Linked DNA regions of Homo sapiens: region 1 is reported to be linked to region 2. The links are microRNA targets in miRTarBase. Many come from high-throughput screens and were not tested one by one. Region 2 holds a microRNA gene; the other region holds the end of a gene's coding sequence.

Evidence for each region. The annotated mature microRNA hsa-miR-548aa reads AAAAACCACAAUUACUUUUGCACCA and lies in region 2 at 2,529-2,553, shown strand. An mRNA with a match to its seed (bases 2 to 7 or 8) in the 3' UTR can be bound and repressed. Matches are read on the target gene's strand: a 7mer-m8 pairs with bases 2 to 8, a 7mer-A1 pairs with bases 2 to 7 and ends in A, and an 8mer does both.
Region 1: miRTarBase lists ZCCHC9 as a target of hsa-miR-548aa. Seed matches in the 3' UTR shown: 7mer-m8 at 919-925.

The regions. Positions count from the first base shown.
Region 1 is chr5:81,312,359-81,316,358 of GRCh38, forward strand. ZCCHC9 (zinc finger CCHC-type containing 9) reads left to right here. Exons shown (of 6, transcript NM_001131035.2): 6 at 186-939. The coding sequence ends at 304. It also overlaps a transcript of ACOT12 not described here. Among named protein-coding and RNA genes, the nearest start is that of ZCCHC9, 13 kb to the left of the region's middle.
Region 2 is chr8:123,345,560-123,350,009 of GRCh38, forward strand. MIR548AA1 (microRNA 548aa-1) reads left to right here and starts at 2,475; the gene lies at 2,475-2,571. It overlaps ATAD2 (ATPase family AAA domain containing 2), which reads right to left. Exons shown (of 28, transcript NM_014109.4): 14 at 3,726-3,885; 15 at 2,624-2,714; 16 at 1,533-1,847; 17 at 1,059-1,191; 18 at 527-713. MIR548D1 (microRNA 548d-1) reads right to left here and starts at 2,571; the gene lies at 2,475-2,571.

The DNA of each region.
Region 1 (4,000 bases), not on the chromosome of region 2:
TGTGGTACTCTGAAATCAAGGGTTATAATCAATTACAGAATTGCTCACTTTCCTTTAGTGATGGAGTCTTCCCTCCTTGTGATTATTCATATCAAAATGAGTTCCTTTCCCAAACCAATAACAATCTGAGTGGATGCATTTGATTACTGTTTTTCTAACATTCTGATTTTTCTATTCCTTTACAGAGCGAATGGTCACAGTTGGTCGCTGGGCAAAGGGAATGAGTGCAGACTATGAAGAAATTTTGGATGTACCTAAACCGCAAAAACCCAAAACAAAAATACCTAAAGTTGTTAATTTTTGATAACAGCTAGCACTATCATGAGTTACTACCTCATTGTTACTTTCTAAACCAGGCCCGCTTCACGAGTTAGAGTTGAGCTCCCCTGTAGCCAGGACTATGCTGTAGATATCAGTATGATCTGGGTGTGGCCAAAAACAATTTTCTTTATTCTGTCTATCAAATAGTACTTCTACCACTGTTTGGAGAAAATTGAAGAAAAGAATAAGATGATTAAATGAATTCTCTAAAAGAACATATTTTAAGAGACAGAACTTAGACATAACCAAGTAGTTGTATACCTGATTGTAACAATCATCTTTTATAAAAGCAAAATTATGCATAAATGTAAAACACCCCTAAACAAAGGGAACAAATGAATTTTTGGTTATATTGTTTTCTTGGCTCAAAGTATCAATTTATTATTATAATAGAAATTTATAAGTTGCTAGAAAGTCTATATTTTTAAAGTACGGAATAAAAATATGTTTTCTATTAAGCAATAGAAATATTTTTGTGTATAATTTTTCTGAATACTTGATTCTCGATTGAAATATCCATTGTTCGTTAATATCCATGTAACAATCCCATTGGAAACAAGATTTTTTTTGAATCCTAGATGAGAATAAACAGGGATTTGGTTTTTGTTTTAGTTTTGACATAAAGGATTCCAAGTTACTGAAGTTAAAATTGAAATATCTCAGTTTAACAGCAGCTCTTTTTTGCCCTTGATTTTCAAGAGAGAACTTCTAGCCAAAATTCAGTTTTTGTTACTTAACCAGAATGATGGCAGATAACAGATGGTATAATAAACTTAATAGCATTTTGTTCTCATGTTTTAGATGAGTCAGAGTAAGATGGAAGTATCACCATAATAGAGTTAGAACACTAATCAGAGACCCATTAGCTTCTTTGTTTGATTTGATGAATTCATGCATACTTAATACATATATTTCACAAGGCTTAACACTACCATTGTACTGTATAATGGAATGACTCTAGTGGTTTTGTGTTTCATTTGAAATTTTACCTGATTGAATCCATTTGTAACTAAAGGAAACAGCTGTGATTAGTTACTGATGCCTCAAAAGCAAAATATTTACCAAATAAGAAAAGAAACACTTTTCTCTGTTTTCATCTCTGCACAACTCGACAGTTCTAGTCTTAATAGGAGCTGTTCTTTTATTTCAGTGTGAGAGGAAAACATGACAAAATACTGCTCAGCATCCCAGAGCTTAAGGAAATGAGTGCTATTTAGAAGGAATTGCACAAGCCAGGCAGTTGGAAAAGGACAGTAATGCTGCCTTAGTCATCTAGTCCGAACGCACCCAGATTTATTTCACCTGTCCCATCAGGAGCAGAGTCTACAGCCTGTCAGCTGAAAGTTAGGTCTAATGCTTTTTGTAGTCTTCAGTGCAAGAATGTTGGTATCCACTTTGTCTTTTTTGGATTACTTTTTGTGTGTGTGTGTGTGTATAATTTTTTTTTTGATAGCTCACTCTGTCACCCAGGCTAGAGTGCAGTGGCACAATCTTGGCTTACTGCAACCTTTGCCTCTTGGCTTCAAGCGATTCTCCTGCCTCAGCCTCCTGAGTAGCTGGGATTATAGGCACGCACCACCACACCCCGCTAATTTTTGCATTTTTACTAGAGATGGGGTTTCACCATGTTGGCCAGGCTGGTCTCGAAATCTTGACCTCGTGATCTGCTCGCCTCGGCCTCCCAAAGTGCTGGGATTACAGGCTTGAGCCACCATGCCCGGCCTACTTTGTTTATATTTTAATGATCTATAAATATTAGGCAGTGAAGTCATTAGAAATAAACTGCAGGTACTGAATGTAACATTAAACACGTGTAGAGACACTAAAAGGAATGCACCAGAGGCAGAAATCCTGAGAGATCCTGAGTGTTCATTAAAAGGAACTATAGACGTTGGTTATTTTCTTAGCTAAAAATGCCTAAAGAGGAAGGCAAACAATTTATTCATTCATCTTATATATTTCCCAAGCACTACTATGTTCCTGTTACTCTTATGCACTTGAAATTGTGGCAGTCAGCAAGACAGACAAGACCACATGCATTATAATGGGGCTGAATAATGGACAGGAGACTTAGGGAAAATACCAGCAAGAAATGTTTTATTACATTCCTAAAATATTTTTTGAATCCCCTGAGACTTTAAAAAATTTTTAAGATGGGGTCTTACCCTGTCACCCAGGCTGGAGTGCAGTGATGCAATCGTAGCTCACTGAAGCCTCAAACACCTGGGCTCCAGCGATCCTCCCGCCTCAGCCTCCTGAGTTGCTGGGATTACAATAGGCATGAGCCACTACACCCAGCTGAATCCCCTAAGACTTAGTCTTTAGTGCTCCTTCGGTCTTTTGTAAATTTCATCTCTTCTTACAAACTTATCTTTCACTTTTCCATAAATGATTCCTAAATCTCCAGCTAGCCCTAAAATCCCAGGTTTCAGTCCCGTCTTTTCACCTGCCTCCTGAATGTTCCTACTGGGATGCTCCACTAATACTTCAAATTCAATATGGCTTTAAACAGACTCACTTTCCCCTGGGGAAAAAGTGAGTTTACCTTTTTGTCTCTTTTTTCACTACAATTATGTTCCAAGCCATGAGGCCTGAATCTCAAGTTGCTCTTTACTTGACATTCCCTCCAGTCCCCATGGCCAGCCCCCCATCCCTGCTTATTTCCTTCAGGCATCTGCTATGACCAGCTTGAGTCTTTCTATGACCATCCTTATAGGAAAGAGCAGCTCCTTGCTTCCTCATCCCAATACCTAACACTATAGCTCTATTTGTTCCCTCTCTACCAGATTATAGGTTACACGAGGGCAGGAATTTTGATTCTTGTTCATTGCTATATCCCTAGAAATGCTTGGAATGTATGAAGCATTTGCATTTGTTGAATGAGTTAATTCAATGAGTGATATAAAAGGAATCAACAGAGAGATGATGCAAGTGACTGGGTAGCTCTTAGATTGGATAATCAAGAGGAGGCCTCTGTGGAAATTTTAAAGCTGAAATCTGAATGACACAAAGGAACCAGTCTTGAGTTAGCCAAAACCCCTAAAGAGAGAATGAGTTTGCCATATGTGAGGGACAGAAAGGAGTGTAGCTGAAGCCTAGAGAAGGGCCACATCAGGGCTATTCTGACCACCCTATTTAAAACAGAATCTACATCTCCATCCTAACACTGGCACTCCTGGTTCCCCTTACTTTGCTTTATGTTTTTCTGTGTCATTTATCACCTTCTACCATATTAAGTTATTTATTATATGTGTCGTTTTTGTCCCATCTCTCTGCTAGAATATAATCTCCACGGGGGGTGGATTCTTGTCTGTTCACTGATATACCCCAAATGCCTAAAACAGTACTTAGCACATAGTAGGCCCATAATATGTATTTATCATTTGACGAAGTCAGAGAGGTGGTGGGGGCAGTATCACACTGGAAAATTTAGGAAGCCATGGGAAAGTTTTGGTTTTATTCCCCTAACAGCTTTATTGAGATATAATTCACATACGATAAAATTCACACTTTTAAAGTGTACAACTAACTGGCTTTTAATCTAGTCAGAGTTGTACAACCATCGCCATTAATTCCAGGACATGTTATCACCCCATCAACAGCCAATACCCTTAAGCAGTTGCTCCCTATCCCTTCCTTCCCCCAGCTACTGGCATCTACTAATTTACCTTCTGTCTCT
Region 2 (4,450 bases):
TAGTCCCAGCTACTCGGGAGGCTAAGGCAGGAGAATTGCTTGAACCCGGAAGGCGGAGGTTGCAGGGAGCCAGGATCGTGCCACTGCACTCCAGCCTGGTGACACAGTAAGACTCCGTCTCAAAAAAACCAAAACCAAAAACAAACAAAAAAAAGTTAATATACAAATACCAAAAACAGAAACTGCAGAATATCTGAGTACTTACTAAGGAGCAGTCACCATTTTAAGTACTTTACTCATTTAATTCTCACAACAGCCATGTGAGGTAAGTAGTATTATCTCCATTTTCCAAAAGGGGAAAATTAGAGAGATCTAACAACTTTACTAAGGTCACAAAGATATTAAGGGTGAATGTGGGATTTAAAGTCATTCTCTTTAATGACTAAGCAATCATGCATAACTCTGTTTTGTAAACCTAAAGTTACAAATCAGAAAGACAAAAAAACACAATACAAAAAAATGGGGCAATTTTAGCTTTTGCCTCTGAAAGCCTGTTTTGTCTTATACTTGGGCACCAACAAATTACCTGGGCACATGTTTCTTCAGGGGATGTAGTACTAACTCCAAAAAGAACAGGAATGTCTAATGTATATACAGTAAACTTTTCCAAAGCATGAATGACAGCTGGTGCCAAGTGAGAACCTTGCCCAAATCCTGGTTCTCCTACTATCAATATTCTTGGTCGAAAAGACATAGGTTGGTAACAAGCATTTCTGAAAGAGAAATGATTAATAAGCTATGTTTTAGAAAAAACAGTTTAAATTTTCCCCCTAAATTGTCAACTATAAACTTTCATAAGTAAAAAGTCTTGCCAATAAGGCCAACCAATCATAACATGGTTCACATAGTTTCTGGAAACTGACCCCCAAAGGTTTTTAGGAATATTTTTATAGACTGTAATTTCTACTGTTGTGACAACTGTAACAACAAAAAATTTCTGGTAGTTTAATTTAAATAAAAAGCAGATTGGTTAGCACTTTTTATTTTTTCAACCACATCTCATTTATTTTTAGAAAATTTACACATGCAAAAAACATTGATTTGCAAGAAAAATATACCTATTCAAATGAAGAAAATTAAAATTGTCTTTTGCCTTATGAGAAGATTTCTGAGAAAGTCCATTTTCATAAACTGATGGAACATCATCATCACTGTAAGCCAAGTCACTTTCTAGCAGAGGACAAGAAATATCTATAAAACCAAAAAATTGTACATTAGTAACTTTTGGATTGCAAAGCAAATCTTTATTGCTTCAGTTACCAAGTCAGCATACTTCAATTAAATTTTTTCAAAGAATCAAAAATATTTGTGTAGATATGAATTAATAAGTAAATGTAAAAATGCACCCCAAACTTACAATAAGTTAAATTAAGGGCAATCCATGGAGTAAATTTCCTTCAAATATCCCAGGTAAAGCATTACCAAATTCTTTTCAAGAGATTCTTTTACAAATAAATATTTCTGGTATGTATGAAACATTTCACTTTACTGATTATAAAAACTAACTTTAAATGGTCAATCAAGTTTTATACCTGAGTCTAATGTTTTATTTGTTCTGAATTCTGCATGTGGAAATACTCTCTGCAGGGCTTCTAAAATCTTGTCAACAGTGTTTTGCAGGAGTGGTTTCACAACGGTGGACAGTGCCTGCCCAGGTGATGTCACAGCTCTTTGGGAGGCTGGTATCATCTTTTGCATAGCTACCTCGAAATCCTTAGCTGAGATATTAATTGAAGAGAGATCCAACTGCAGTTTCTCACTAGTGGTATAGATCTGTGGGTAGCGTCGTCGTAAAGCACATAAAGCAGCTTCAGCACATATTGATTTAATATCTGCTCCACAGTATCCTATCCAAAGCAACCAGGGGAAGAAAAGAACCAGCCGACCAAACAAAGAAACACAAAACTCTATTAGCATGACCATGGTTAAAAAAAAAATTAAAAATCAGCCTCGGAATATAGTTAGCAAATATTTAAGAGTAATAAGACCAAAATCTCTTTTACCCAGTAAACTTATAGGGTAGTAATGGCCATCAACAATCAATCAACTTTTAAGAGTGCAATACACAAGCACTAAGTATAGCACAGAGGTCAAAAGCAAGAGTTTTAAAATCACACAGACTAGATTCACATTCCAGTTTGTAATTTACTAGCTGTATGACCTTAGAAGATTCACATAATGCTCTCCAGCCATTTCTTCATCTGTAGAGATACTGCTACCTACATCACAGGAATGATGTGAAAATTACATGAAATAATATATGTAAAATGCTTAAAAGGATGACTACAAAATGGTCAGTAAAGAATAGCTATTATCTTATTATGATATAATAATATATTGTATTTTGTACAATTATATTATTATCTACTCTGCCCCTGATGGCCAATTTGTCAAATATCTCTATTTAATACCAAGACTTCATGAGAAGAAAATGCCACAAATAAGAGATAAGAAACAAATATAACCTTGTATTTCTTTATTAGTCTGGTGCAAAAGAAACTGTGGTTTTTGCCATTACTTTTACAGGCAAAAACCACAATTACTTTTGCACCAACCTAATATAACTTGTTTCATATTTGAAATAAATGTAGTATTTATTTTAACTGCTTAAAACAATGTTTACCAACACAGTTTTCTGCTAGCTCTTCTAAAAATGTGTCCAGTGGTTTGGGATTCCAATCCCTGGTGTGAATCTTTAGAATCTCTTTTCGAGCCTATGAATAAAAACAATTTAATTTTTTACAACTATAATAATAAATGCTATTCAGATTACATTAATTTTGATTAAAATACTTTTGATTATCTAAAATTTTAAAGTGATCAGTACTTAATACTGGCCGGGTGCGGTGGCTCACACCTGTAATCCCAGCACTTTGGGAGGCCGAGGCAGGTGGATCACTTGAGGTTGGAAGTTCAAGACCAGCCTGGCCAACATGGTGAAAACCACTCTCTACTAAAAATACAAAGATTAGCTGGGCGTGGTAGCATGTGCCTGTAATCCCAGCTACTTGGGAGTCTGAGGCACGAGAATTGCTTGAATCCCGGGGACGGAAGTTGCAGTGAGCTGAGATTGTGCCACTGCACCCCAGCCTGGGTGACAGAGCAAGACTTTATCATAAACAACCAACCAAAAAAACTCAATATAAGCAAAATATGAAAGTGAAAATAAGAAAAAGGATGTACTTTTAAGAGTTTAATGAACTTAAGTCTCATTATTAAACATATTTGCATTTATAGCACTAAAGTTATATTCGTCATAAACACAAATAAGAGAAAAGTAACTACTAAAGTAGCTATTCATTCTGGTGCATATTAAGAGCTGTTTTTAAGAGTACAGACAGCTCTTGACATATTTTCCTCTTTGGTTCCCAGAAGATTAAGTAGACTTAAAAAAACTCGGTAGGATTATATGATGATATTCATGAAAAAGACAAGGCTAACAAACTGGCTAAGGATTGATTACTCATTAAGCCATATGTTCTGAAGCAACACTTAGAACATCCAAAGGCTACACTCAAATTGAAATAATTTTAAGAGTAATTTTGGGAAGGCATTATTATATTTAAAGAAAAGAATAAAAATTTGTCCCCATTTGAGTTGTTTACTATCATTTGACAAGACCATGATACAAAACTCAAGAATCTCCAAATTTTTACTATACCAAGACTTATTATTAATAAACAGCAATATATTTTGTCAAAATTTGAGTGACATTAAATTCTTACCTCTTTATCAGGCAGGCTAAAGAGGAATTCTCTATCAAAGCGACCAGGCCTTCGTAAAGCAGGATCTATAGAATCTAGCCTGTTCGTAGCACCAATGACCACAATTTCCCCTCTGCTGTCCAATCCATCCATAAGAGCTAGCAGGGTGGAAACAATAGAACTAAATTTTAAAAATAAGAGAGAAGAGATTAATACTATGAACACAGTCTATATCATTCAGTAATATTTCTTCTTTTGTAAGATTTAACGCATTACATGTGAATAAATTTTCTCAGGGCACCTCACTATTTCCAATGGATTAAAAAAATCTATAAAATAACATCCCAAATGGCCCACAGAAATTGAAATCAATGGAAAACAGACGGTTGTTAGACCCCCCACAAATGAATCCTAGAAGACATTTTATAAAGCATAATTTCACAAAGGAACTTAAGAGTTCTCAAACAATATATAACATCAAAAAGAAAAAAAAGGCAAGGCATGGTGGCTCACGCCTGTAACCCCAGAACTTGGGGGCTGAGGTGGGAAGAGTACTCGAGGCCAGGAGTTTGAGACCAGCCTGGGCAACATAGGGAAACCCCATCTCTATTAAAAAAAAAAAAAAAAATTAGCCAGCATGGTGACATGACCTGTGCCTGTAGTCCTACTACTTGGGAAGCTGAGGTTGTACGTAGTGAGCCAAGATTGCACCACTGCATTCCAGCCTGGGTGACAGAGCAAGACCT